Linked DNA regions of Homo sapiens: region 2 is linked to region 1. The links come from fine-mapping of genetic effects on gene expression. A gene starts in region 1. The other region holds a variant in brackets. All regions are shown on one strand. Distances are from middle to middle.

Evidence for each region. PIP is the estimated chance that this variant, and not a neighbour inherited with it, causes the effect.
Region 2: its variant is fine-mapped to the expression of KIAA0232 in whole blood (INTERVAL, PIP 0.98).

Annotation. Positions count from the first base shown.
Region 1 is chr4:6,781,720-6,784,219 of GRCh38, forward strand. KIAA0232 reads left to right here and starts at 1,008. Exons shown (of 10, transcript NM_014743.3): 1 at 1,008-1,122. RefSeq lists silencers at 388-1,267, 1,328-2,097.
Region 2 is chr4:6,881,030-6,884,044 of GRCh38, forward strand. KIAA0232 reads left to right here. Exons shown (of 10, transcript NM_014743.3): 10 at 1-3,015. Among named protein-coding and RNA genes, the nearest start is that of TBC1D14, 27 kb to the right of the region's middle. The variant GGT/G (reference allele first, on the strand shown) is at 1,596.

The DNA.
Region 1 (2,500 bases):
CTCCCACAAGCCCGTGAGCTGGTGCAGGAAATTCTCCAACAGGTTCTGAACAGAAAAGCATAGTGCCTGGCACCTAGTGGGTGCTGCATAAATGAACAAATGACCCCAGGTAAGTCACTCCTCCCATTGGACCTCTTTCTTCTAAGTAATCTCCCTTCCTTTTCCAGGTCCATGATACTTATTTGCTTTTTTAGAACAGGCCTAGGAGTCACATTTAGGGAAGGTAGGTGGCTGTGAAGACACTTTGATTAAAAGGTTAATGCACATTTTTGGTTTCCACTTTCGAAGCTTCCAGAATTTATTTTTGCCTAGTTAATAAAAAAAGAGCCATGTCACATTTCTTTAGCTTGTCTTCTGGGTTCCTTAACAACAACAACAAAAAATTAAAGTCTTTATTTTAAGCCGCCTACTCCAGCCATCCCAGGACGCGGCGAGGAGGGGGCGCGGACAGGTGGCGCGCGAGCCCGGGAAGGCGGGGGCTGCACCGGGCCGCGGGCGGGGCCGTGCACGCCGAGCCCCACTTCCCCAGCGCGGGCCGGGGGCGGGGCGCGGCGGCAGAGTTCGGGGGCTTCTGCCGAGGGCAGTCCCACGTGCCCCTCCGCGGGAGACGTCTCCTCTCCGACGCCCAGCACGCTGGGGGGCTCCCGCTTCCTGCCTGCCCTCTCTACTGCTTGCCCTCTCACCTCCCAGCGGCTTCCGCCGCCCCGGCCAAGCTGCACGGCGCGTCCCGGGCCCTAGACCCCCACCCGCCAGGCACCAGCCCCGGCCTGTCCCCTCGCGCCGTCAGCCCGCGGCCCACCGCCCGCGCGCGCCCGCAGCCCAGCCGGAGGGAGGGGCAGGGGCGGGGACCGGCCGGCGCTGATGTAATCCCGGCACCCGGGCGGAAGGATATGGAGCGCGCCCCTGGTTGGCGGGGCGCTGAGGCCAGTTGCCGGGTAACGGAGCGGAGCGGCTCCCGGCGCGCCGCCTCCCGCCCTCCGCGGAGTGGCGCTGGGGCCGCCGCCGCCGCTTTACGTAAGGCGCAGGCCAGGGCCGCCCGGCGCTCGGCAGCCGCCCGCAGCCCCTCGGAGCCAGAGGAGAGGCGCCCCCGCCGGCCGCCGCGCCGCCCGGCAGCCTCGGCAGGTACTGCGGGCAGGCGGCGGGGAGGGAGGGCGCGGAGCAGCCCCTCGGCCGGGTGGGCGCGGGCCGGGGAGGCCGGACGCTCGCCGCCGTGGGGCTCCGGGGCCAGCCCGAGGGAGGCCGGGCCGCAGCCGAAGGCTTCGGGGTCAGCCCAAGGGAGACAGGGCCGCCGCCGTGGGCTCTGGGGCCAGCCTAAGGGAGGCCGAGCCGCCGCCGAGGGCTCCGGGGCCAGCCTGAGGGAGACCGGGCCGCCGCCGGGGGCTCCGGGGCCAGCCTGAGGGAGGCCGGGCCGCCGCTGATGGCTCCGGGGCCAGCCTAAGGGAGACCGGGCCGCTGTTGATGGCTCCGGGGCCAGCCGAGGGAGGCCTGACCGGCCCCGATCCTGGTGGTGCCCGGGCGTGCGGGTGAGCTGTGGGCCCTGGGACCCCCGCCCCGACCCCAGGACGCCGGGACACCAGCTTGCGGCTCTTGCGCCCGGGTGGGCTGTGGACGATGAGTCCGCACAATGGGTTGCCGTTGGCTGCCTCCTGCCTGGGGCAGGTGTCGCCGCGCCGGGGCGGCTCTTCTAGGGGAGACGAGGCGGGGGTGCTTAGACTTGATAGGACGTAGAGCCCCGAAAGTGGGCGCGGGAGGAAGGCTTCGGCCGGTGGGAGGCGCCCGGCGTCCCCGGCAGCGGGGTCAGGCCGGCAGCCTGGGCCGCTCGCTCGCGTTCCCTCCGTTCCCCTCCCCTCCAGCATTGTCCTTTTGGGGCCCCGGGAAGGGAAAACCGCCGGGCGGGGGAGGAGGGCCGCAGGCGGGCGGGGCCGGGAGGCCGGCTGAGCGACTGGCGCGCCGGCCTATGGCGCGGGGCGCGGCGCGGGGGGCGGGCCTGGCGGGCGGGGCCGGTGCGGCGCAAGGTTTGGCGAAGGTTACAGCTGGAGCTAGGAGTGACAGGCCCACAGTCATCCGTGCGCTGCGCGGCAAACCCTGTCGCGAGGGCGCCCCGAGTTGCTGCGGGGCCTGATCCGGCTCCTTTCCAACAATACGCGTCTGCAGCCGGCATTTCTAGAGCTCTCTGCTTCTTCCCGCTGGAGAAACCAGTGTGTGTCGTGTTGGAATGCTTCGTCTTGCCCTAGAATTCAGCTTGCGTCTTGTGGTGCGCAGGTGACAGGACCTGCCGAACTCTTGGTACAGACCCCTAAATCATGGCAGAACTGTCTTGATTTCTTTTTTGCCACCTTTCCGTTTTTGTCCTCTATAGGCAAGCTATAAAGATTTAACCCAGTTAAAAACAGGAGGGAGATTCAGCGGAGAGGAGGCATGCGAGATTCTTTGGAAAAAATTATATAAATGTAGTTCTTGCTAATAATTACCTGGGTTGGATACTTTGACTTACTGTTCA
Region 2 (3,015 bases), 100 kb after region 1:
AGACCTGTTAATCTAAAACAACAACTTAGGTTTCCTCTTCAATTAACTGATTCAGATTGGTAATAATTATCTTTCTCTTCTTGCTTATTTTAGAGTTGAGGACAGCTATCCTGTTAAAGATTTTTTTTCCCAGCTGTTAAATTCTTGGCTATTTGAAATAGACTAGATTGTGTTGTCAAATCAAGAATGGGTGTGCATGTGCTTGTCTTAGAAGTATCACTGCTTTTTGCATCTTAACTGCAGTTAATTTTCCTTCCGACTGCGGTTATATCACTATGACCTTACTAGCATTGCAGTGTCAACAACCACTTCTGCTCTTCAGAGACTTCAGCTTTGGAGCATTTAGGCTTTGTTCTCCAAGAACTGGGATATCCATTCTTACCCTACAGTGGCTTGATGCCTTTCTGAAGGCGAGAGGGAAGCCTGGGTGACTCAGCGGTGGTCTCCATTCAGCAAAATCTCATGTACATTTCCAGTAGGAACCGCAGAGGTGTGCTTTTCAAGACTCACCAAATACTGTGTTTTCTCTCTTAGGATTTCTTTTCCCCTAAAGTATCACGGAAGATACTATGGTTCGTGACTTTCTTGCTAACTGAAGAAGCCAAGGATTTGGGGTGTGGGGTCGTATGCGAGACACAGTGGGGTAAGGGTGCATACCCCACCCCTTACCTGCTCTCATACTGCAGTTACATTTACACCAAAACCCCATGCAGGGTTCTTTGTGGTGAGTGTTCCATACGTGCTAAGGACCTTAGTTACAGATTGTTACTTTCTGGTGACCTATGTTGAATTGAAACCCCCAAAACTTGAAATTGTGAACATTTGACATGCAGTAAAGGCCACCTCATCACCCAGAGAAATCTTTGGCTGCTGCAGCTAGCCGCTTCTTGGCTGTGATGTAGTATAGCTTCGATCTCATTTTGTGTTTGAGAGAATGTTCTGGGCAAGTTCTGTGTGTGGTGGGTTGGGGCGGGTAGAGTCATGAGTTTTCCACATCCCTGTGTGGTGGTTTTGCTGACTGTCGCTCCGTGGGACTGGCTCCCGTTTCTCCTTGGTGAGCCCGGGGAGCCGGCGCATCTTGTGAGTCGCGTCTGTGCATGGCGATCCGCTCCTCCGGCTCTCATGGCATTGTGCCACAGGCAGAGGCCAGGAGGAGCAGTATGTGCACAGCCGAAACATTTTACATTTTTTACATTGTTTTTCTTTTTTAACCAACTCATTGTTTAAAAAACAAAAACAAAAAAAACCTAATCTGTGAAATCAGCGTAGCATGCCTGGAGCATCAGGAATGGCAGAAAAGTCTGATGCGCTCTAGACAGCTTCACCACTCATTTGGGCAGGCAGTAAACACACATATAATTTATTAGCTGGGAGCTGAACTGGCTGTGAAATCTATGATTTGCTTTGAACATTTGGGTTTTGTTGCCTTTTTCTTAATTGATAACACAGAAAAGAAAGTACCATCAAAGACTGTGGAGTCATTGAGGGTCTGTGTGTCCTCACCGAGAGGGACCTGGTGTGCCCGCCGGGTCGATCTTCCCACGTGTTAGGGTTTATTTTTATACAACACATTTTTTGACACTTTAAGGTGGGTG[GGT/G]GTGTGTGTGTGTGTGTGTGTGCGCGCGTGCGCGCGCGCATGTGTAAGGTTTTATGTTGCTGTTATTTATTTACGAACTTCAGATACGTTTTTATGTATTTTTCATTCTTCTGGAGCTTCCTAAAAATTGATAAGCATCTGCACTGAAATATAATTTAACAGCAAAAGTAAAAAAGGATTGAAAGTTGTAAATTCCTCATATCACTACAGTGACGATTATTCTAGAAATCGTTGCTTGTGTAGCAAAGACCAAATAAATAGATTTCAGACACAACCTTGAGCACAGTTGATTTTGGACAGCTGCTGTTTATTAGGAAAGGGCTCCAGGTGGCAAAGGTGCACACTTCCTCAGACACAGGTGAGAAGATGCAGCACCTTCCACAGGTGAATGGGACGGATTCGAAGTGAGCAAAGGGATTCACAAATTATGTATTTATTTGTTTTCATAGTTAAGTAGCTGAAGCTCAGAGGCTTTCAGCAACAGAGATGAAAGTGTGGCTTTTTAGTTTTGTGAATGGATGATCACAAAGAAAAAGCATTTTTAAAAAGTTGGCAAACGCTGAAACGCACTGTGGTATGAAGCGCATTGCATTTCCATAGCACTGAAGTACCAGTTTCCATTCCTGGGCTGAGATTGTTTTTCCCGTGGTTGTATTGTTCTGATTTCACGTACACCAGAGTAACTGATTTTTTTTTGTTTGTTTTCTTGTGGAGTTAACACCAAATAAAAATTGTAAAAAACAGTTTGTTGTTTTTATTTCTCATAGCAAAGCTTCTTTTGTAAAGAACTCCAGCTTCCTTTTACTCATGAGCATCCGTGGAAGAGCAAGTGCCCAGGTTACATTTGTTCTAGATGGAGGTCATTTAGCTCTCATTGCAGACACTGCTGAAAACATTGTGCAGCTTTGCTAGGGAAGAAAGTGGTGTGGCCTGCTGAGAAATCAGCGGCTCCTCCCCATCTCACCCCCAGCACACGCAGGGACTACTACCTGAGTCTGCAAAACACATAGCATTTTTGTCCGTGGATGGTACACAAAGCTCAATCTTTTTGTTTTCTTCTGGGGAAAAAATTAAATCTTTATATGTTAATATGATTGATATTCATTGTGCAAAAAAAATCAGTGTGTTTTTAAAGAAGTATAAGGGAAAAGGAAAACTCATATGTCCTTCTGTCACTCTGAGACATACACTGGTAACATCTGTGCAAGCCCCTTTCCAGGATTCTGAATGTACAGTATATATGAATGCATACACAGAGAAATTTACATTCAAGAGTGTACTATACTTGTTCTTCTATAACATCAGAAATAGGTTTTTACTCAGATGTCTTCATGTCGGTAATTATAGAACTACATAATTATTTTTATAGCTGTATTATGTAGATTTAACAGGTTCCTCATTGATAAAACAATGTTTTT